Homo sapiens: one gene and its partners. The protein of the gene in region 1 interacts with the protein of each later gene in a pairwise test. Each region holds a gene or a part of one and is shown in the gene's direction. Other genes may lie near its edges. The genes, in order: DMRT3, TRIM23, REL, KRTAP5-7, FHL5, PSMA3 and FRS3.

Region 1 (2,789 bases):
GGCTGAGGCGGGTGGATCATGAGGTCAGGAGTTCGAGAGGAGCCTGGCCAACATAGTGAAACCCTGTCTCTACTACAAATACAAAAATTAGCTGGGTGTGGTGGCACACACCTGTAGTCCCAGCTATTCGGGAGGCTGACGCGGGAGAATCACTTGAACCCAGGAGGCAGAGTTTCCAGTGAGCCGAGACCATGCCACTGCACTCCAGCCTGGGTGACAGAGTGAGACTCTGTCTCAAAAAAAAAAAAAAAGTTGAGCTTTGAGCTTTCCAGCTGTGCCTATGTACGCTTTATTCCCAAGAAGGACTAGTTGTTTCTCTTGCTTAAAAAAATCTCTTCATTCTCTATATTACTATGACACTGTGTGGCATATATTTTTCTTTTTTTATTGTGGTAAAGTATATATAACATAAAGTTTACAATTTTAACCATTTTTAGGGGCACAATTCAGTGGCATTTATTCAAAATGTTGTGCAACCATCACCACCATCCATCTTCAGAACCTTTTCATCATTCCAGACGGAAACTCCATACCCATGAAACAATAACTCCCCATTCCCTTTTCCTCCAGCCCCTGACAACCACCACACTACTTTCTCTCTGAATTTCCCTATTCTTGGTATCGAATATAAGTAGAGTCATACAGTATTTGTCCTTTTGTGTCTGGCTTATTTCACTTAGCCTAATGTTCTCAAGGTTCATCCATGTTATAGCATGTATTGGAATTCCATTCCTTTTTAAGGCTGAATAATATCCCACTGTGTGTGTGTGTGTGTGTGTGTGTGTGTGTGTGTGTGTGTGTGTACACCACGTTTTATACATTCATGCACTGATGGACATTTGGGTTGCTTTCACCTTTTGGCTATTGTGAATGCTGCTGCCATGAACATTGGTATACAATGTGTGTCATATTTGAGGCTTAGCAAATGCTGCCAGGCCCTGTTTGCTTCTTCTCCTGCATGTGTGTCTTATTTCCCCAGCTAGAAGATAAGGTCCATAAGCTAGGTGTGGGTCTTACACTTCTTGGTGTTTTTCATCCTTTATTCTGTTTCTCCCAGTATCGTGCAGAAATATAAATACTTGGTGCTGATAATTACGCTAAAATTAAAAAATAAGGAAACTGTTTAGAAGTACATAGTATTTTAAAGAAGTACTTTATGTCCATATTTACATGGGGAGAGTATTTGACTTGTTTTTCCAATTTCTAAAAGTGATAGTATATTAATATGCTATCACTTTTCAAGTGTTTAATAATTTTCAAATGTTTAATAATAGAGTAACAGCCAAGAAGTATGTATGGGTCATGAGTCAGGAACATTTAAATAGATCTAGCTGATTATAAAGTAAATCTATAGAAGCCTTTTTGTTGCTGTTTTTCTCTTTTGAATCAAGGACATGAGTTCAAATACCACATTAACTCAAGAGGTAAAAGCTGTGTCCCCCATCCTAAGAAGTTGTAGGAGAGAATATGTCAAATTTCTCTTACAAAAATAGAGTCATTCTACAGTAGAGTCTTTCTATAGAGTCATTATATAAAGTGAAGATGGCTTCATATGTATGTGACGCAAATGAACCTCTCATTGGAAACCTTATATTTTATATTAAAAAAGAAGCAGTTTAATTAAAATGCAAATTTGGGATAAGTATGAATTCCTATCAGATGTATGTTGACACTTGCACTGAGGTAATTGAAGAGTGTTTTAAAGTGTATTTACTTATGTTTGCCACATATTTATTGCTTTGTTAAAGGCCAAAGTTTTGGTTTTTGGTTACATCTGAGATACATCCTGTATTAGAAGAATGTTTCTAAGTAGGCCTTTAAGGCTTTTAAAATAAATAACAAGTGTAGGAGAAGATGGTTTCTAGAAGGTGCTTTGATGAAATTTCACAAAGTTTTGTTTTTTGGTTACACTTAAGATACACCTGTATTAGAAGAATGTTCATAAGTAGGCCCTTAAGGCTTTTAAAATGACAAGTGTAGGAGAAGATTGTTTCTAGAGGGTGCTTTGATGAAATTTCACCGGCTGGCTATCTGTATATAATCAGGTGTGCCCACAGAGAAGGCAACAATGAAGCTATTCAGGCAGGGCAGCAGAAAACACAGGCAAAGCAATTGTTTACAACTCAACAACTGGGTCATTAGGAATTTTCATCTTTCGATCAGCTACCCTGGCTTTGAGTAGCCACAGCCAGCGCGTGTTTCAAAAAAGGACAAAACTCTATTTGCAAATAGCTTGCTACTAAAAAATATGTTTCTTTATTATAAAGTCCTGTTGGAATTTACTACTGCAAAGCAAACCACTCTGACTTACTCTTTTCTGTGTGCTTAGCCCTGCAATATTACCAGCTGTTAAGTAAAAATGTTCTTAGGTCAAGATGTTAAATTTGCAACTGGTTTACTTTATCGCAAGTCTCTGCTTTATTTGGGAAGCCTTTTTTTCCCTCCTTCTTCTTTTCATATAATATAAAAAGGTATCTTCAAATTTCACTGGCTTTAAAAAAAGGTATCTTCAAGTCCTTTCCATGAACTGTACCAGCAAAACAGTTCATGCACAGGTATCTGCCTCGTGCCACCCGTGGCGGTGGAGTGTGATGCGTTGTTTCATTGATGGATAATAATGCCCCCGTGCAATTTAACAAACCCTTTCTAGCCACTTCCTTTTTTCCTCTCCAGCAACTTATCCTGCCATCCGGAATTCATAGCTGGTTTCGTTTGCTTTCTAGTACAAGTTATTGGCAACCAAGTTTGCCAATGCCTCAAGTGGCTTCTTATGAAAGATTTCAATGGAT
Region 2 (3,500 bases), on another chromosome or scaffold:
CTCATTCTTTTTTATTTTTCATATTTTCACCTTCTACTAAGTAATTAATGGGCAATTACAATTTGCCAGTATTGCACCAATCATTAGAAAGTTTTTTAAAAGTCCCTGTCTTTCAGGAACTCATTCATCATGGAAAAGAGAGAGTTTGAAATATGGTAACTATTTTATGGAGGAGAAGTACAGGGTGCTTTGGCATCACAAAACAGGGACAATGATTTATGGAGGTCAGAGAAGTCCTTATAGAAGAAATGGTGTTTAAACTGAGATTTGAAGAATTTCAGTCAGGGAAAAGAGCAGAACGGGGAATGAGTTGTCCCAAGAAGGGAACAATATGTTAAAATGTTTGTAAGTGAGGATTGTACATATTGTAGAGACTTAAAGAAGCTCACTGTAGTTAGAGCTTTAAGTATTGAATGGGACATGACAAGAAAAGAGGATATGGAGAGTTCAAAGCCAAATCATGCAGGATCTTGTCAGCCATGTTAAAGAGTTCAGAACTTAGTTTAAGGACAGTGATGAGCCATTGAAGAATTGACTTAGGAATGATATAATCAGATTTTCCTCAAGAAAGGTTGTTTTAAATGTAGAAAATGAATTGGAGGAGCAACAAAATTGGAAGCAGGCAGACCTATTAGGATGTTGTTAAAGTTTTCTAGTTAAAATACTAGAGATGTTTATGGCCTATAATACACTAGGGTAGTGAGAGTGGACACAAGTCAATGGATTTGAGATTTTAAATAAGTAGAATAGATAGGTCTTAGTGATTAATTGTTAATATTGATTGGATAGGTAACTTAGAGGTGATGAGGCATGATCAGATTTTGGGTGTATTTTGAAGTCAGCAGAATTTGCTGAGGGACTAGTGGGCTATGAAAGAGAGCTGATAATGATGACTCCGGTTGTTTTTGCTTCAACATCCTGAAGGATGGAGTTGCCATTTACCAAGACAGAGGCAATTAGGTTTGGGAATAGGGGAGACTGGAGATTAGGCATTCCATTTTGCTTGAGATGTCATTTATAAACAGTTGAATTTCCAATGTCTGTGCATTAGGGGAAAGATCTAGCATGGAGATTTATATTTTGGAATTTAATATAGATGGTATTTAAACAATGTCTCGCTCGGTCACCCAGGCTGGCATGCAGTGTTGTGATCACCACTCACTGCAGCCTTGACTTCTGGGGCTCAATCAATCCTCCCGCCTCAGCCTCCTGAGTAGCTGGGACTACAGGCACATGCCACCACGGCTGGCTAATTTTTTCCATTTTTTGTAGAGACAGAGTTTTGCCATGTTGCCTAGGCTGAAATTTTAAATATTTCACAGGTAAAATCTTTATTAACATTACAGTTGCTTAAAATTTATTTTCATTTTCTTAGGTACCAGGGACTGCAGAGAATGCCCGGTCATGTATTCGAGCTTATTTTTATGATCTACATGAAACTCTGTGTCGTCAAGAAGAAATGGCTCTAAGTGTTGTTGATGCTCATGTTCGTGAAAAATTGATTTGGCTCAGGCAGCAACAAGAAGATATGACTATTTTGTTGTCAGAGGTTTCTGCAGCCTGCCTCCACTGTGAAAAGACTTTGCAGCAGGTAGGTAGTTTAAATGTGGTTAGGGACTTAGTTGTAAGTTTAAGTAGATAATTACCAGAGGTATACATTAGTGTGTTTTATTAATATTTTGTGTCTGCTGTATGCAGTAACTTTGTGCTTAGGAAATGGTCTGCAACCTTGAATTATTTCACTAGTATGGAATTATCAGTGTCGTTCACGTGCCTTTCCCACCATAAGCCATGGGTTCTTGAGGCCTTCTAACTTCTTGCCATTCTTCAGTTATGCCAAATCCTTTTACTCTTCTTTGCCAAGCATATATGTAGTTTTTTTTTTTTTTCTGCTTGGAGTGCATATATCTCTCTTTTCTAATAGTGGAAATCTTCCTTCTCCTTCAAGGTCCAGCTTAAATATTTGCCTTTCTTTGAAGCTTTCTATTTGTTGGTCTTTTTTTGAGTGCCTCTCTACCATGTACTGCCTACGTCTGCTATAATTCAGTGGTTCTTCACTGTTAGAGCAAACGTATGTTTTGTGATGGTTGAGATACCATAAGAAATTTGTTACCCAGTTTGCAGATGACTTACTTTTTTAAATAAATGAGATTCAGTTATTCTAACACAAATGTCAGCTTTACCCATTTGTGTTTTGGATCTGTTTTCATAAGTGTGAGGTATAAGAATAACTATTGCCCTAGGAATTTCAGAAAAGCTGCAGTCTGTGTTATCTTCACTGATATATTGCTAATAATTGTGTTGATTTCAAATCATTGTAGGCTAAGCCTTGTACCATTGTAGAGCTTTTTCTCTTAAATATGTGATTACACTTACATGAGAGTGGCCAGTCTATAGCCTCATCAGTCTTGGGTTATCATTTAGTCCTTACCACACTGAATTGTAACAGTTGATATGTATGCTATTTATTAAGTTGATTTTCAGCTCCAAACCTACTCTTCTATCCTCTATTTTGTGATACTAGGGCTAGAACTCTACAGACCTCATAATTGTGTTGCCAGCTGGGCCCATGTTAGGTACTGTCAAGAGGGGGCATAGTTACTCATGTGAGGAGACCACCCTTCTCGGAGGTTTGAGTTTCAGCTCCATGAGCCACTCCTGCAAGTTTCTAAGTTTTAATAATTCTAACTTCTTCCTTTTATTCCTTTAGCACTGGAAGTGGTAGCTATGTTATTTCATACAATTGCTACCTCCTTAATACCTCAGAGTTCCTTTTAACCTTTTAGCTACCTAGTTAATAACTACACCTAGTTAACAGTTTTTATTTTAAGTTCTTTCTATTCAAGTAATGGTGTGATTTGTGTCTTCCGATTTGACCTTGAATGACACAATATGCCTATGTGTTTTAGATGCTGACCTTGTTCATCTTTGATGCATCTTGTTCATCTTTGTGTCACTAAATTCTTTGCATCTAGATAGAAAGAGCTTAATAAATACATGTTTAACTCATGGCGGATAATGAAGCTACATAGCAAAATCAGAGTGGAGTCATGTCCTAAATCATATTTACTTGAACACTTAAAAGTATTTTCATATTTATTTTATGAAAAAGTTTGTTCATAGTTACTGAAATATTTAAGTATTTTAGAGTTTCTGAAGTGTTGTGCCAAAATGACTGGTATATTAGTCCATTTTCACACTGCTTTACAGATACTACCTGAGACTGGGTAATTTATAAAGGAAAGGGGCTTAATTTACAGGTTTGCATGGCTGGGGAGGCTTCAGGAAAGTTAGACAATCATGGGGGAAGGCGAAGGGGAAGCAAGCACCTTGTTTACAGGACGGCAGGAGAGAAAGAGAGAGCAAAGGAGAGGTGCCACACTTTAAAACCATCAGATGTCATGATTAATCACTATCATGAGAACAGCATGAGGGAAACTGCCCCAATAATCCAATCATGTCCCTCCCTTGACATGTGGGGATTACAATTCGAGATGAGA
Region 3 (3,500 bases), on another chromosome or scaffold:
CCACCCTGTCACTGTGAAACTTTGGGCAAGTAATTCATCTCTTTACAGTCAGTTCCAGGCCAGGCTCAGTGGCTCACGCCCATAATCCCAACACTTTGGGAGGCCAAGGTGGGTGGATCACTTGAGCCTGGGAGTTTGAGACCACCCTGGGCAACATAGTGAAACCCCATCTCTACAAAAAAATAGAAAAATTAGCTGGGCGTGGTGGCATGTGCCTGTAGTCCCAGCTACTCAGGAGGCTGAGATGGGAAGATCACTTGAGCCTGGGAGGCGGAGGTTGAGGTGAACCAAAATCGCATCACTGCACTCCAGCCTGGGCAACAGAGTGAGACCCCCATGTCAAAAAAACGAACTAAACTCAGTTCCTCGTTTGTAAAATGGGGATGAAAGTAATTCTTGTACAGATTTAGGAGATAATTTACAGAGTCCTTAACACAACAACTGGACCAAATACATACTTGTTGAATGAATGGGTAAATGCCATTCTTTGTTGTGTACAAACCTGCAACTATTTTTTAAAACTTTGATTTGTTATTAATGTCAACTTGGGATTTTGCTTTAAATCCCAGGTGAGGGGATAGTTACTTCCTGAACATGGCTATAATTTATCAAATACTGTTAGATAGTGATTACTTGATAAGAATGATAAAAGGCATTCTTGAGATTGTATACTGTTCTATTTTTATTCATACATATTTGGATGCTATTCAAGGTTATTGGCTATAATGGGCAGGGAGGAGGACCTAGCAAGTCTTTAGGTCTATGTGACTATTACATTTAAAAAATTTTTTTTTTCTATTCAGTCCCTGAAAAACAGCTGAATGATATTGAAGATTGTGACCTCAATGTGGTGAGACTGTGTTTTCAAGTTTTTCTCCCTGATGAACATGGTAATTTGACGACTGCTCTTCCTCCTGTTGTCTCGAACCCAATTTATGACAACCGTAAGTACTTCATTTTCTTATATTTGTAGTCTTAACTTGTTTTTTGTAATAGTTTAATTCTTAAAATTATTTTGGTAATTAGGAAAACAATATATTCATGATAGGAAAACTTCCAGACATTAGAGAAATATATAACAGAAAGGAAATCTTCTCTAATCTCATCCTCCAGAGATAATCACTATCCTTAGGTGCATATTTTACCAGTTTCTTCTTCCTGTATATACACAGATACATTGTCATCATCATCATTTTTGACACAGTACAATTTTGGCAACTTAAAATCATAAGTGATGATTGTTTTAAAAACTAACTTTCTTCTTACCATATATCTTGGACATTTTCCTTTTAATCACCTTATTCTTTTCAGTAGCAGCATATTTTATTATGTAGTTATATCATAATTTTATTAATTACCCTCTTACAAGGCATTTGGTTTGTTTCTTTTCTCATTTTTTCTTTTTGGCCTAGCAAACTGTACTGCAATACATATTCTTGTATATTTTTTTTTATTGGTTTTTTTTTTTTTTTTGGAGACAGGGTCTCACTCTGTCACCCAGGCTGGAGTGCAGTGGTGCAGTCATGGCTCACTGCATGGCAAATGCTGGCTCAAAGGATATGGATATATCTCATTTTGAAAGATTATGAAACTTTCCCCCAAAATACTGTGTGTGTGTGTGTGTGTGTGTGTGTGTGTGTGTACGTGTGTGTGTGTGTACATAGACTTAGATATACGTCCACCAATGGTGTATGATATACCTGTTTTATGTGTAGAAGGATAGAGAGACTTAGGGCTATAAAGGAAGCATGAAAGTTGTATTGCCATAGGGAGATGTATTGCCATAGGGAAAATTGTATTGCCATGGGGATGTGGTCATGATTTATGAAGATTAATCTGGTGACAGTGGGTAGGATTGATTGGCGGAATCAGAATTTAGAAGCAGGGAGATGTAATTAGAGAATATGTCATTACCTAGAAATGAAGCCACAAAGTCTAAAGTAAAGCAGTTAGAAAGGAAGTGGACAGATAAATAGATGATTAATGTATTTAGTGTCATTTATCTATACACTAAAACTTTTATTCTGTGAATGCTTTTCCTCAAATTCTTCCCTGCAAAAAGAAATAAAATATTACTAAGGTAGCAACTCATTTTTTTGAAAATCCTTTATATTTAGGTGCTCCAAATACTGCAGAATTAAGGATTTGTCGTGTAAACAAGAATTGTGGAAGTGTCAGAGGAGGAGATGAAATATTTCTACTTTGTGACAAAGTTCAGAAAGGTATTTATTTATTTCATTGAATTTAGAATAAATTTTAGATTAATAGATGCAGTTACTTTGTTTTCCCATTTTTTTTTTTTTGGTTTCTTATTGACTAGATGACATAGAAGTTCGTTTTGTGTTGAACGATTGGGAAGCAAAAGGCATCTTTTCACAAGCTGATGTACACCGTCAAGTAGCCATTGTTTTCAAAACTCCACCATATTGCAAAGCTATCACAGAACCCGTAACAGTAAAAATGCAGTTGCGGAGACCTTCTGACCAGGAAGTTAGTGAATCTATGGATTTTAGATATCTGCCAGATGAAAAAGGTATGACATTTTGCTGGTAATAATTTATATATTTCTTGAAGTGGTCCTGCTAATAACATCTTCTTGTAATATTCATTTGAGTACAGTTATGTATATTCATAATTTATGTTTCTTTTCCTGGAAGCTTTCTGTTGGTTTTTTCTTTATGCTCTTTGCATCTCTTTATTTGTTGGGTTGTTTTTTGTTTTGTTTTGTTTTGTTTTTGAGACAGAGTCTCACTGTCACCCAGGCTAGAGTGCAGTGGCGCAATCTTAGCTCACTGTAACCTCCTCCTCCCGGGTTCAAGCGATTCTTCTGCCTCAGCCTCCTGAGTAGCTGGGACTATAGGCACGTGCCACCACGCTGGGCTACTACTTTTGTATTTTTAGTAGAGACAGGGTTTCACCATGTTGGCTAGGCTGGTCTCTGCATCTCTTTCTTCAAGAAGAGGTTTGATTAGTATGGAATAATTTCAAAGTATCTAAACTGCTTACTAAAATTTCTATTTTATTTTTGAAGGTCTGTTTTAGTCTTTGTGCACTTACCACTCAGAGAGTAGTCTCTATATTGGTTTCTTATCAAACCTTATTGCATTAGTTGACATTATTGACTTGTGTGATAAGAAAACAAGATGAATATTTTAAACAGCTTGTTTTGGGTTTTTTTTGAGACAGGGTCTCACTCTGTCACTCAAGCTGGAGTACAGTGGCATGATCGTGGCTCACCAGAGCCTCAGCCTCCTGGGCTCAGGTGATCATCCCACCTCAGCCTCGTGAGTACCTGGGACTATAGGTGCGCACCACCACACTTGGCTAATTTTTGTGGGGTTTTTTTGTTTTTTTGTTTTTTTGTTTTTGAGATGGAGTCTTGCTCTGTCTTGCCCAGGCTGGAGTACAGTGGCGCAATCCTGGCTCACTGCAGCTTCTGCCTCCTGGGTTCAAGCAATTCTCCTGTCTCAGCCTCCCAGGTAGCTGGGACTACAGGCATG
Region 4 (3,088 bases), on another chromosome or scaffold:
CCCACCCCTCACTCCAGTGTACCCTGGATGTGGGACTGGGAGTCCAAGGACATTATTTTGGAGCTTTAAGATTTAATGGCTGCCCTGCTGGATTTCAGACATGCATGGGGTCTGTAGCCCCTTCCTTTGGGCTGATTTCTCCCTTTTGGAATGGGAATGTTTACCCAATGCCTCCACCCTCATGTATCTTCAAAGTAAATAATGTGTTTTGATTTTCACAAGTTCATTGGTGGAAGGGACTTGGACTTGGGACTTTGGACTTGATGTTGGAATGAGTCAAGACATTGAGAGGACTGTTGGGAAGAGATGATTCTATTCTGCAATGTAAGGACATGAGATTTGAGGGGTCAAGGGGATAATGATACAGTTGGGATGTCCCCTCCAAATCTCTTGTCGAAATGTAATCCCCAGTGTTGAAGGAGGGGCCTGCAAGGAGGTGTTTAGGTCATGGGGGCGGATCCCTCATGACTGGCTTAGCGCCATCTCCTTGGTGATGAGTGTGTTCACTCAGATCTGGTTGTTCGCAAGTGTGTGGCCCCTCCTCACCCCTTGCTCCCACTCTCACGATGTGGTGAGCCTGCTCCTGCTTCACCTTCCACCATGAGGAAAAGCTCCCTGAGGGCCTGCCCAGAAGCTGAGCAGAGGTGGGTGCCATGCTTGTGCAGCCTGCAGAACCATGAGCCATTCTAACCTTTCCTTTATAAATTACCCAGCTTCAAGTATTTCTTTAGAGCAATGCAAAACTGAGAATGGCATGAGTAAAATATAAAGACCATGGATAATTTTGAAATCTAAAAATGTGAAATTAATATTCCTGGGGGAGTCAACACAGGAAAGATGAGAGCACGTGGGCAAAGGCTGTTGCCCATTGGTCACATGTGGTCAGCAGAGAGCAGGTGACCAGCACCCTGGAGCTTTGCGGGAAGCACCAGACAGCCTGGAGCTGAGGTTTCAATTGTAGGGGCCAAAACAAATAGGGAAAAAGACAAATTTAGTAAACAAAGAAAGTAGATGCTCAACTGAGCCAGGAGGAAGTCACTAGCAAAGAGGAAAAAAAATAGAGCTCTGGAAAAATAGCGTAAACAGTCACAAGGAAGCGACCCTGTATTGTGCCTGACCTCTGGACAGGTATATAAAGAGCCCGGGCTCAGGGGGCTCCACACCTGCACCTCCCTCTCACCTGCTCCTCTACCTGCTCCACCCTCAATCCACCAGAACCATGGGCTGCTGTGGCTGTTCCGAAGGCTGTGGCTCCGGCTGTGGGGGCTGTGGCTCCGGCTGTGGGGGCTGTGGCTCTGGCTGTGGGGGATGTGGCTCCAGCTGCTGTGTGCCCGTCTGCTGCTGCAAGCCCGTGTGCTGCTGTGTGCCAGCCTGTTCCTGCTCCAGCTGTGGCTCCTGTGGGGGCTCCAAGGGAGGCTGTGGCTCCTGTGGGGGCTCCAAGGGGGGCTGTGGCTCTTGTGGGGGTTCTAAGGGGGGCTGTGGTTCTTGTGGCTGCTCCCAGTGCAGCTGCTATAAGCCCTGCTGCTGCTCCTCAGGCTGTGGGTCATCCTGCTGCCAGTCCAGCTGCTGTAAGCCCTGCTGCTGCCAGTCCAGCTGCTGTAAGCCCTGCTGCTGTTCCTCAGGCTGTGGGTCATCCTGCTGCCAGTCCAGTTGCTGCAATCCCTGCTGCTCCCAGTCTAGCTGCTGTGTCCCCGTGTGCTGCCAGTGTAAGATCTGAGGCTCTGGACTCAGGTCTCATGTGAGTCCTGCTAACCCCATTTTCCGAAGCTGTGACCTGTCCTTCATCGTTGAGCCCCAAACCACTGCTCAGGGTCCATTCCTCACTATAAGATGAAGCCATATCTGCCTGCCTTTTCCTAAGGAGAGTCCACCCTAATTAATGTCCATTCCCTCCTAACAAATTCTCTTCCCAAGTCAACTGCAACTGCGGCTGAATCACCCCTCACCCGCTAGCCTTGCCTTTGCTTGTGTATTCAGAGGCCTGAGCTCCTGAACCCACTTGAAGTCCTGTCTTTTCCAGCTGGAGCAGCTGGGCATGAGTGTCCCACCTGCAACAAGGTGGGCGTTTAAGAGGCTTCCTTGGAGTGGCTTTGCCTGTCCAACACTCTGCTTTATCTTAAATGAAAAGTTGCAAACTAATAAAAATACCATGCCGACAAACTGAAACACATATCTTGCTGATTTCTCTGTTGTTCGGGGTCATTACTATGGCTATGGCTATTGTTTTCTTGTTCTTGTTGTGTTTCGGACTGCGTGGGTCTGATGCTGATGTTGCTGGAAGGTGCTAGGATGGGGCTGGCTGTCTCCTCTGCCTCTCATCTCCTTCCTGGCTGACCCCTCTTTTCTCAGAACCCCTCTCTTCCTAGGTCTTTCCAGCTATTGATCTGATGGAGACAGGACTGTTCCTCAGGCCAGGGCCACAGAAGCAGAAGAGGCTGCTGAAAACTCTGGGGAGTTCAGACTTGCCTCCTTTCCCTGGTCCAGGCCTCTGCCATCTTCCTTTGGGAAGTTTTTGTAACCAACTTACTCTGATTGTCTTTGTTGTTACACAGCCTGTTGCCTCTGTAAATAAACACTCCTAGCACCAAGCCAATATTGCTTTTTAAGAATTTTGAAAGGGCCGGGCGTAGTGGCTCACGCCTATAATCCCAGCACTTTGGGAGGCCGAGGCAGGCGGATCACTTGAGGTTAGGAGTTTGCGACCTGACTGGCCAACATGGTGAAACCCTGTCTCTACTAAAAATATAAAAATTAGCTGAGTGTGGTGGCACGTGTCTGTAATCCTGGCTACTTCGGAGGCTGAGGGAGGAGAATGGCTTCAACCTGGGAGGGGGAGGTTGTGATGAGTCGAGGTCGCGCCACTGCACTCCATTCTGGGCGACAGAGCAAGACTCCGTCAAAAAAAAAAAAAGGCAATATTAATAGAGTTGAATTATTTCAAGTTATTTGGAAACACAGCAATTTATTGGTGGGATATGTCCTAAGCATAGAAAGAACACAAAAATAAAATTCCTAAGCTATTTTTAGTAGTCATGGTGGCAGCAGTGGTGTCGTTATTCTGCTGTGAATGCTGTATGGAAAAAGCAAA
Region 5 (3,500 bases), on another chromosome or scaffold:
TTCCCTCACGCTACTAGCACAACCTACTGACATGAGAGTCCCAGGAGTGTTCAGTTTTGTTTCATAAAATGGCCTGTATTGTCACAACCACATTTAATTAACTTTTATTTACTGTCTCAAAGGATCTTTGTTACAAAGACCGGCACTGGCATGAAGGATGCTTCAAGTGCACCAAATGCAATCACTCTTTGGTGGAAAAGCCTTTTGCTGCCAAGGATGAGCGCCTGCTGTGCACGGAGTGCTATTCTAACGAGTGCTCCTCCAAGTGCTTCCACTGCAAGAGGACCATCATGCCTGGTAGGGTCTCAAGGGGGCTCCTGTCTCTAACTGAAGCTGTGATGCTTTTCATTAAGTCCCAGCACATGAGGAGTGCAGCAGCTCCCAAAACCCTGGTTTTGAGAAAGATATCTTTCTTACTCTCTCAATCTTCTTCCGTGTACTTTAGAAATAAAAAGATTATTCATTCATTATCCTTGAACAGGTAAATTACAGTGTTCTGTGTATTTTCATATAGTCTAATTCATAGAAACATTTCAAACCAGAATCTTACCCATAAAATAAAGACAAAATGTATACCAATAACACTACATTAAACACAGTGCCCTAGGCACAATCAATGGCATCAGAAAGAGTGATTCATCATAGGCGATTGGGGCCAACTGCCATTTTGTAGCTTGACACAAACTGTTTTGAGGATCGGTTATTGTTATTCTCTCTTAGGGAAGACAGGGTTCATGTATATCATTCCACTTTTGGCAAGGACTAATTCTTTATATTTTGATCTTCTCAATCTCTATGGTCAGCAGCATAAGAACATAATTCATTCTCTGCCACTCTTGCTCTCTCATTTTCTTATTATGGATTCAGAGAATTTCTAGAAGGCCATAACTGCACAGTATAGTCTCAGTAGTTGTGCTCTGGGCATTTTTAATACCCTTGTAATGATTATTATGGCCCAATTTATCCAAACCATGTGAAACCATTAGGAGTCTCCATTAAAAGTACTTTTACATCTCCAGATTATAGGTTATGCAGAGCTTGAAAAAGTTTTCAGTCTAAGAGTGATTCTCCATCATCATGGCTAAACTTTATTAACCATTTTTTTTTCTCCAGATGAATGGGTTTTTTTGAACCTGAAAAAATACTATTTTTCTAAAAGGACAATTCATTTATCATCTTAACTTAAAACGTTTTTAAGTAATTTGATCTGTATTTGCTTAAAAAATAAAATTATGCTTGACTTATACTAACATGGCCTTACTTTTGGAGTACAGGTTCCCGCAAAATGGAATTTAAGGGAAACTACTGGCATGAAACCTGTTTTGTGTGTGAGAATTGCCGACAACCTATAGGGACAAAGCCTTTGATCTCCAAAGAGAGTGGCAATTATTGTGTGCCATGTTTTGAGAAGGAGTTTGCTCACTACTGCAACTTTTGTAAGAAGGTAATTTTCTAAAGAGGGTGAAGCTTGTGGAAACTCAGACTATTTCTTTTTAGCTGTATCATATATTTAGAATGAACTGATACTATTATGTTATATCTGTAATCAACACACCCATGGTAGTTTGGACTTTCAACATGTCCAAACCACTAGTTGTCACGATGAGCATGACCATCTTTTTTTTTTTTATTAACCATAAAATTCCAGCCACAACAAGAATTTAATATTCCAAACAGCTCAAGTGATTTGGTATTCCAGTTCATTTCACTGTTTTTTGTTGTTGTTGTTGTTTTATTTTTTTGGGATGGAATCTCGCTCTGTCACCCAGGCTGGAGTGCAGTGGTACAATCTCGGCTCACTGCAACCTCTGCCTTCCAGGTTCAAGAGATTCTCATGTCTCAGCCTTCCAAGTAGCTGGGATTACAGGTGCGTGCCACTGTGTCCAGCTAATTTTTGTATTTTTAGTAGAGACAGGGTTTCACCATGTTGGCTAGTCTGGTCTCGAACTCCTGACCTCAGGTGATCCACCTGCCTTGGCCTTCCAAAGTACTGGGATTACAGGCATGAGCCACCACACTCGGCCCATTCACTGCTTTTATACAAGATCTCACGTATTCTGGGAGAAAGCACAGGTCTCTCTTTGAATACAGATGTTTCTTAAAAAATAATGTTTGATCTATTCAGTATTAACTGTTTCAGAGAAATATGGATTTGCCTCACAAAGTGACTAAGGGAACCAAGTTAAACAGGATGTTTAACTTCTCACATTCTTTCTCAGCAATGCAAATGTCTTCTTGACTTGAAGCTTTTGTATTTCCTATGAGTAGGGCAATCGGCTCAAGAGAGTGCCAAGATCATGGGGGAAGTTCAGTAGACAAAAGACAGAAAGAAGACTAAGAGCAGCAAGTTCCTTCACTCCAGTTCCAGGATCATGTAGGGCCTTCTGACTTGGCTTCCCACTCAAAAAAAACATTTTCTAAGAGAAAAAAAAAGTAATATTTTTGAAGTAAACTTCATCCAATTCTTTTTTTATCCTCTAAGCTTTTATGTGAAAAAGTAGCTCTAACACCTTGATGAAGCCTGTCTGCATTCCATAAAATATATATGGAGGTTCTCAAAGAAATCCTTGACCTGCGAGGCATCATAAGTTTAAAATGACACCATAAATTGTCATGAGAAAGCTGAATCATGAAAATACATTGGATTAGTATAGTGGTTTCAAAGTATTTTTTATCTGTGGGTTACTTTGGCAGAACTCTTAAGCCCATTTGTATATCTGGACAGCTGGAAGTCACACTACCACTTTCTATGCACACATATGTGAACACACATGCACATACACACACACACACACACACGCAGTTAACTGTTTAACATACATAACCAATACCACTACTGCATTTAAAGAGGCAGCAATACACTATGCTAAGTTATCATTATTAAATTACACTATGTTGATGGCTGAGAATTACAATTGATCACATGACATAAAATAATCTTATGACTGAGACCTTCATTACTCTACCAAAACACTGGCTTAGAAGGTGACTTTACAAGCAGCAATCAAGCCATATGACATATGAAGCTCCAAAGAATTACCAGGGTCAATGACGGCATTTAAAAACATGCTGGAGCTGGGCATGGTGGCTCACGTCTGTAATCCCAACACTTTGGAAAGCCAAGGTGGGAAGATTGCCTGAGGCCAGGAGTTCAAGACCAGCCTGGGCAACATAGTGACACCCTGTCTGTATAAAAAAAAAAAAAAGTTTAAAAATTAGCCAAGTATGGTGACACGTGCCTGTAGTCCCAGCTACTTGGGTGGCTGAGGCAGGAGGATCACTTGGGCCCAGAAATTCAAGGCTGCAGTGAGCTATGATTGAGCCACTGTACTCCAGCCTGGGTGACAATGAGATCCTATCTCTAAAAAATATACAAAACTTAAAAACTAAAGAAAATAAAATCTTGCTGGAAATAAAATGAATAGGTTTATCTCACTGTTTTGAGAGACAACTGAGTTGGCCAATTTTAGGCTGCATTTCTTAAAGACAGACTAAAACAG
Region 6 (3,500 bases), on another chromosome or scaffold:
CAAGAGTGATAATAGTACTTGGCACATACAGTTGTTGTGAGGTTAAAAATTATTATGCAAAATGCTTAACATGTAATGAGTGCTCAGTATCTCTTAGTAATTATCATTATTACTATTACTGGGTAGCGTAGGAAAAAAAGGCTATTAAAGATTGTGATACCACTTTTAAATTCTGTAACTGTCCTGGGCTAGAGGGTTTCAAAAACTTGGTTGGTTTATGGTACCTTAAGTGTCTCAGTAGTTTTTCTCATGGCTTCCCTAGGCCGAAAATACCTAATGGTTTCATTTATTAAGTATTTAGATCCAAAGAACTTAGTGTTTACATCCTAAAAACTTAGTAGCCGTTTTTTTTTTTTAAATACACACATAGTGAAAAATATTTTTATTTAAAAATTAAAATGTTTTATTTTAAGCAACCAAAATTTCTAGTATATACACTGCACAACCTCCCAAATTTGGATGTGGCCACTGTCATTTCCTGTTCCACACTGATTTTTGCACAGTACTTACTTTTTTTCACAGCAACCACTAACAGCCAAGCTTCTCAAAGATGTGGTGGCATTGAAAGGAATGTAGTAAAACGATCTAATGTTCAAACGGAACTACTTGGACATTTTTCTCCAAACTTAGAATGTGCCACACTAGGCCAGGTGCAGTGGCTCACACCTGTAATCCCAGCACTTTCGGAGGCCAAGGCGGGCGGATCACCTGAGGTCGAAAGTTCAAGACCAGCCTGACCAACATGGAGAAACCCTGTCTCTACTAAAAACACAAAAATTAGCCGGGCGTGGTGGCGCATGCCTGTACTCCCAGCTACTCGGGAGGCTGAGGCAGGAGAATCCCTTGAACCTGGGAGGTGGAGGTTGCGGTGAGCCGCGATTGCACCACTGTGCTCTAGCCTGGGCAACAAGAGCAAAACTCCATCTCAAAAAAAAAGATATGCCACACTAACATGTGATTTCACTGCAGTGCCTGAGGACCTCTCGGCACATACATAGTAACTGCAATTCTGTTTTTGTTTTTGTTTTTGTTTTGAGACAAAGTCTCATTCTGTTGCTCAGGCTGGAGTGTAGTGGCGTGATCTCGGCTCACTGCAGCCTCCGCCTCCCGAGTTCAAGTGATTCTTGTGGCTCAGCCTTGGGAGTAGGTAGGATTATAGGTGCCCGCCACCAAACCTGACTAATTTTTGTATTTTTAGTAGGGGTTTCACCATGTTGTCCAGGCTGGTTTCAAACTCCTGACCTCAGGTGATCCCCCTGCCTCGGCCTCCCAAAGTGCTGGGATCACAGGCATGAGCCACCGTGCCCGGCCTAGTAACTGCAGTTCTAAGCCGCAAATCTTGAAAGAGGAATGGTTTATCATTGTAGTTTATTCAGCCAATAGGCTGAAAAAAGATTTGCGATTGTGCCTTTTAGAACAAAACAGTTACAGGTTGAGTATCTCTCGTCTAAAATGCTTGGGACCAGCAGTATATCGGATATTTTTCGATTTTGGAATATCTGCATTATATACTCATCAGCTGAGCATCCTTAATCTGAAAATTCAAAATCCAAAAAGCTCTACTGAGCATTTCCTTTTTTTTTTTTTTTTGAGATGGAGTCTCGCTCTGTTGCCCAGGATGGAGTGCAGTGGCGCGATCTCGGCTCACTGCAACTTCCGCCTCCCAGGTTCAAGCAATTCTCTGCCTCGGCCTCCCAAGTAACTGGGATTACAGGTGCCTGCAACCACGCCTGGCTAATTTTTGTATTTTTAGTAGAGACGGCATTTCACCATCTTGGCCAGGCTGGTCTTGAACTCGTGACCTTGTGATCCACCTGCCTCAGCCTCCCAAAGTGCTGGGATTACAGGTGTGAGCCACCAGGTCCGGCCTGAGCATTTCCTTTGAGTGTCATGTTGGCACTCAAAAAGTTTCAGATTCTGAAGCGTTTTAAATTTCAGATTTTTGGATTAGATATCCTCAACCTGTAATAACTTTAGAGAAAAGAACAAATTTGGGCCGGGCACGGCGGCTCACACCCATAATCCCAACATTTTGGGAGGCTGAGGCAGGCTGATCACCTGAGGTCAGGAGTTCAAGACCAGCCTGGCCAACATGACAAAACCAAACCCTGTCTCTACTAAAAATATAAAAATTAGCCAATCCCAGCTACTGGGGAGGCTGAGGCAGGAGAATCCCTTGAACCTGAGAGGCAAAGGTTGAAGTGAGCCCAGATGGTGCCATTGTGCTCCAGCCTAGGTGACACAGTGAGACTCTGTCTCAAAAAAAAAAAAAAAAAAAAATCTGACCAAGACCCATGGTTTTTATTCGTTATAATGAGGTAGTGGTAGTAAATCAGGGGAAGAGGATTTATGATAGAAGTAGTCCTGAATATTGGCCGGGCACGGTGGCTCACGCCTGTAATCCCAGCACTTTAGGAGGCTGAGGCAGGCAGATCACGAGGTCAGGAGATCAAGACCGTCCTGGCTGACATGGTGAAACCCCATCTCTACTAAAAATACAAAAAAATTAGCCGGGCGTGGTGGCAGGCGCCTGTAGTCCCAGCTACTCAGGAGGCTGAGGCAGGAGAATGGCATGAACCCAGGAGGCAGAGTGTGAAGTGAGCGGAGATCATGCCACTGTACTCCAGCCCTGGTGACAGAGCGAGACCCCGTATCAAAAAAAAAAAAGGAAATGTCCTGAATATGAACATTGGACAAAGCAATGAAGTTATACTTACTAAATTTCTAAATTATAATTTCATACTCAAGCATCAAAATGCCTTGTAGAGAGACCTTTAAGCCAAAAAAGTTTATTTTGAATGGTAATACTTGTTAAAAAAATGTTTAATAAGTCTTTATTAATTGCAGACTTTGATTTGTGATAGGAATGTGTTCCTCTAGTAAATTGGTGCTTTTTTTTCAGGCAGTAGCAGGTTTGTTGGCAGATGCTCGTTCTTTAGCAGACATAGCAAGAGAAGAAGCTTCCAACTTCAGATCTAACTTTGGCTACAACATTCCACTAAAAGTAAGTTGATAACATATTGAGGAACCTTTTGGACAGTAATAGAAGTTTATTAATAAGCTCTTCTGCTTCCCTCCATAGCATCTTGCAGACAGAGTGGCCATGTATGTGCATGCATATACACTCTACAGTGCTGTTAGACCTTTTGGCTGCAGGTAAGAAATTTTGTGAATTATTCAAAAGGCAGATCTGTACTATAGATATTTATTATGTTCCCCAGCATCTTAGCCTTTTACATACTTAAAAATAGAAACTCGTCGATAAGTATTAGGGCAATGATTAAATAAAACAGTGTACATAGAAACTACTTGAGGCTGGGTGCCATGGCTCAAGCCTGTAATCCCAGTACTTTGGGAGGTTGAGGTGGGAGGATCCCTCGCGCCCAGGAGTATGAGACCAGCCTGGCCAACGCAGTGAGAACCTATCTCTACAAAAAAAATTTAAAATTTAGCCAGGTGCAGTATCACATGCCTGTAGTCACAGCTACTTAGGAGCTGCT
Region 7 (3,500 bases), on another chromosome or scaffold:
CAGGCGTGGTGGCTCACGCCTGTAATCCCAGCACTTTGGGAGGCCGCAGCAGGCCGATTACCTGAGGTCAGGAGTTTGAGACCAGCCTGACCAACATGGTGAAACCCCGTCTCAACTAAAAATACAAAAAATTAGCCAGGTGTAATGGCGGGCGCCTGTAATCCCAGCTACTTGGGAGGCTGAGGCAGGAGAATTGCTTGAACCTGGGAGGCAGAGGTTGCAGTGAGCTGAGATCGCACCATTGCACTCCAGCCTGGGCAACAAGAGCAAAACTCCATCTCAAAAAAGAAAAGAAAAAGAATGCTCAAGATGAGGAGAGGCTCTCCTGCCCCTACAGGCCTGGGACTGGAGTTGAGGGACATTTCCTGCACATTGTGCATCTGTTGAGCTCCTCTGGTCCTTCCCTATTGCCTAGGGTCATTTCTTCCTCTCCTTCTCCAGGAATATTTGCATTTAAGTGTTCCCGGGCTGAGGAAATCTTCAACCTCCTTCAGGATCTGATGCAGTGCAACAGCATCAATGTGATGGAAGAGCCTGTCATCATCACCCGCAATAGCCACCCCGCTGAGCTTGACCTCCCTCGAGCCCCCCAGCCACCCAATGGTGAGGAGACCCCAGTGTACACACACACACACACACACACACACACACACACGCCCAGGAAGCACAAATCTGAGGGACTAGTTAAGCTGGCTGGTTGGGAGAAGGCTGGGTGAGCCAACCTTCCAGGACAGTTGTCCATGATCAGAACCATTCTTGAGGATCGGTAAGTCCTGGGCTGGGCTAGGTGACTCAAACTGAGGTTGTTGAGTTCTGGGCCTTGTATTGACTGATGGTTGGGGAGCAGACAGGAAGACTTTGGGTTTCCGTAGAATTGGCAGTCTGGAGTTTTTTTGCTTTCTTCCTCTGTCTATTGGGTCATCCCCATATACCTTCCTTGCTGCTGGTGCAGGCATCTCTGGCCATGACCGTATTCTGGAGAGGGTCCTACAATTTCTGCTTATTCAGTCATTGAATTCAGATCAGGTACCTGTTTGGTATTCAGCGCTCCTTGGACTGGCCCATGGGGGACAGGAGAAATAGAAGCGCAGTCCCTTTTTTTGAGGAGCTTCCCTGGACCTTACTGGCAGACCTAGAATGAAGCAAAGGGACGGTCCAGTGACAGCAAGATGTGCTTTATGCGTTTCGGGTGAGGCTATAATGGAGACAGTGGTGAGGTGCTTCAAGCTGAGCTTGAGGGAAAGGGCAGGGTTTGAAGAGCAGAGGAAAGATGAAGGATAATGGGGGGCTGGTGGCTCAGTGGGGTTTAACCACTGTGACGCCCTGAGAACATCTGTCCTCCATTAGAGGAGTCCCAGGATGCCACACACACAGCTGCAAGTGGTTGTCAGGTGGCTTAAGTTCCCCTCTCCTGGGCTTGTCTCCCGTGTGCTCAGCTCTAGGCTACACTGTCTCCAGCTTTTCCAATGGCTGCCCTGGAGAGGGCCCACGATTCTCAGCTCCCCGGCGGCTCTCGACAAGCAGCCTGCGGCACCCCTCGCTTGGGGAAGAGTCCACCCATGCCCTCATTGCTCCTGATGAGCAGGTGAGCACGCAGCCGGCCAGCCCCTGCCCTGTTGGTCTGGGTGGGGACGAGGGATAGGAAATAAGGCCACCTCCTCCCAGTAAGGATCACGGGAAGGGGAAGAACATTGTAACGGTCCCTTCCTGTCCCCAAAAGGGAGCAGCTTCCTCAGAAGGGTTGGAGGACAAGGAAGAAGAAACTCCAGGTCTTTTTCTGTGTGCTTCTTTTCTCTCATCCTGTCCCTTCTGTTCTCTTTTCTCCCTGCCCTGGGACACTCCTGCCTCACTTGGACTCTTTCCCCAGTCCCACACCTATGTCAACACACCGGCCAGTGAAGATGACCACCGCAGGGGCCGCCACTGCCTGCAGCCCCTGCCTGAGGGTCAGGCACCCTTCCTCCCGCAGGCCCGGGGACCTGACCAACGGGACCCACAGGTGTTCTTGCAGCCAGGCCAGGTGAAGTTTGTGTTGGGCCCGACCCCTGCTCGGCGGCACATGGTGAAGTGCCAGGGCCTCTGTCCCAGCCTGCATGACCCCCCACACCACAATAATAACAATGAGGCCCCTTCTGAGTGTCCAGCCCAGCCCAAGTGCACCTACGAGAACGTCACCGGGGGGCTGTGGCGAGGGGCTGGCTGGAGACTGAGCCCAGAGGAGCCGGGCTGGAATGGCCTTGCCCACCGCCGGGCCGCCCTGCTGCACTATGAGAACCTGCCCCCACTGCCCCCTGTGTGGGAAAGCCAAGCCCAGCAGCTGGGAGGGGAGGCTGGGGATGATGGGGACTCGAGGGATGGGCTCACACCCTCTTCCAATGGCTTCCCTGATGGTGAGGAGGACGAGACCCCACTGCAGAAGCCCACCAGCACCCGGGCCGCCATCCGCAGCCACGGCAGCTTTCCTGTGCCACTGACCCGCCGCCGCGGCTCCCCAAGGGTCTTCAACTTTGATTTCCGCCGGCCGGGGCCCGAGCCCCCAAGGCAGCTTAACTACATCCAGGTGGAGCTAAAGGGCTGGGGTGGAGACCGCCCTAAGGGGCCCCAGAACCCCTCGAGCCCCCAAGCCCCCATGCCCACCACCCACCCTGCCCGAAGCTCAGACTCCTACGCCGTGATTGACCTCAAAAAGACCGTGGCCATGTCCAACCTGCAGAGAGCTCTGCCCCGAGACGATGGCACCGCCAGGAAAACCCGGCACAACAGCACCGACCTGCCTCTGTAGGGACTTCCCGGTCCTCACCACCCTCTGCCCCACCATGATCCAGCCTCTGCCTCACACTCCTGTCCTCTGAACCCACCCTCCCCAGGGTTCAGGGTTGCTTTGCAGAAGGCATGGAGGTGGGACCAGATGCTTCCCTGTGCTGGCTGGAGTCCCCAGAGATATCAGCCACCGAGTCTCCTGGTCTGTCTCCAGGCTGGGGAGAGAAGGGTGACCAGGCGAGGAGGGAGCCGAGACGTCAACTGTGAAGGGTTCCTGTGATTGCGTTTAGCGCCCTCCCGTTCTGTCCATTTGTCTTGTCTGCCGACTGTCCGTGTGTGTTTTTTTTGGTTGGAATTTTGAAACATTTTGTACCTGTTGATTTTATTTATCAGTTTATTTTTCTATTTATTGTTTTAAATGTAATTTAACATATTTATTATTAATATAATTATTTTTAAATTCTGGCCCAGTGGATATCATCTTCTTAGGGAATCTTTTCTGGTGTGGTCCTGGGTTGGACACAGGGCAGGCCTAATCGAGGTAAGGGCTTCACTCTGGGGAATTTGGGTCAGTTATGGTTTTTGTGACAAGTCCATGATTTTTTTTTTTTTTGAGACAGAGTTTCGCTCTTGTGGCCCAGGCTGGAGTGCAGTGGCGTGATTTCAGCTCACTGCAATCTCCACCTCCCGGGCTCAAGCAGTTCTCCCGCCTCAGCCTCCCAAGTAGCTAGAGTTACAGG

Evidence for each region.
Region 2: the proteins of DMRT3 (region 1) and TRIM23 interact in binary tests that used the Homo sapiens proteins (3 or more experiments, as listed by UniProt).
Region 3: the proteins of DMRT3 (region 1) and REL interact in binary tests that used the Homo sapiens proteins (3 or more experiments, as listed by UniProt).
Region 4: the proteins of DMRT3 (region 1) and KRTAP5-7 interact in binary tests that used the Homo sapiens proteins (3 or more experiments, as listed by UniProt).
Region 5: the proteins of DMRT3 (region 1) and FHL5 interact in binary tests that used the Homo sapiens proteins (3 or more experiments, as listed by UniProt).
Region 6: the proteins of DMRT3 (region 1) and PSMA3 interact in binary tests that used the Homo sapiens proteins (3 or more experiments, as listed by UniProt).
Region 7: the proteins of DMRT3 (region 1) and FRS3 interact in binary tests that used the Homo sapiens proteins (3 or more experiments, as listed by UniProt).

Annotation. Positions count from the first base shown.
Region 1 is NC_000009.12:986,655-989,443, forward strand, and holds part of DMRT3 (doublesex- and mab-3-related transcription factor 3), read left to right. Parts: intron 1-2,789. UniProt on the Homo sapiens protein: Probable transcription factor that plays a role in configuring the spinal circuits controlling stride in vertebrates.
Region 2 is NC_000005.10:65,607,334-65,610,833, reverse strand, and holds part of TRIM23 (E3 ubiquitin-protein ligase TRIM23), read left to right. Parts: intron 1-1,375; coding exon 1,376-1,591; intron 1,592-3,500.
Region 3 is NC_000002.12:60,916,074-60,919,573, forward strand, and holds part of REL (proto-oncogene c-Rel), read left to right. Parts: intron 1-803; coding exon 804-944; intron 945-2,117; coding exon 2,118-2,222; intron 2,223-2,320; coding exon 2,321-2,533; intron 2,534-3,500. UniProt on the Homo sapiens protein: Proto-oncogene that may play a role in differentiation and lymphopoiesis.
Region 4 is NC_000011.10:71,526,082-71,529,169, forward strand, and holds KRTAP5-7 (keratin-associated protein 5-7), read left to right. Parts: upstream 1-1,185; 5' UTR 1,186-1,219; coding exon 1,220-1,717; 3' UTR 1,718-2,588; downstream 2,589-3,088. UniProt on the Homo sapiens protein: In the hair cortex, hair keratin intermediate filaments are embedded in an interfilamentous matrix, consisting of hair keratin-associated protein (KRTAP), which are essential for the formation of a rigid and resistant hair shaft through their extensive disulfide bond cross-linking with abundant cysteine residues of hair keratins.
Region 5 is NC_000006.12:96,604,628-96,608,127, forward strand, and holds part of FHL5 (four and a half LIM domains protein 5), read left to right. Parts: intron 1-122; coding exon 123-297; intron 298-1,274; coding exon 1,275-1,444; intron 1,445-3,500. UniProt on the Homo sapiens protein: May be involved in the regulation of spermatogenesis. Stimulates CREM transcriptional activity in a phosphorylation-independent manner.
Region 6 is NC_000014.9:58,254,843-58,258,342, forward strand, and holds part of PSMA3 (proteasome subunit alpha type-3), read left to right. Parts: intron 1-2,902; coding exon 2,903-3,004; intron 3,005-3,082; coding exon 3,083-3,156; intron 3,157-3,500. UniProt on the Homo sapiens protein: Component of the 20S core proteasome complex involved in the proteolytic degradation of most intracellular proteins. This complex plays numerous essential roles within the cell by associating with different regulatory particles.
Region 7 is NC_000006.12:41,769,901-41,773,400, reverse strand, and holds the end of FRS3 (fibroblast growth factor receptor substrate 3), read left to right. Parts: intron 1-441; coding exon 442-603; intron 604-1,436; coding exon 1,437-1,585; intron 1,586-1,867; coding exon 1,868-2,782; 3' UTR 2,783-3,225; downstream 3,226-3,500. UniProt on the Homo sapiens protein: Adapter protein that links FGF and NGF receptors to downstream signaling pathways. Involved in the activation of MAP kinases. Down-regulates ERK2 signaling by interfering with the phosphorylation and nuclear translocation of ERK2.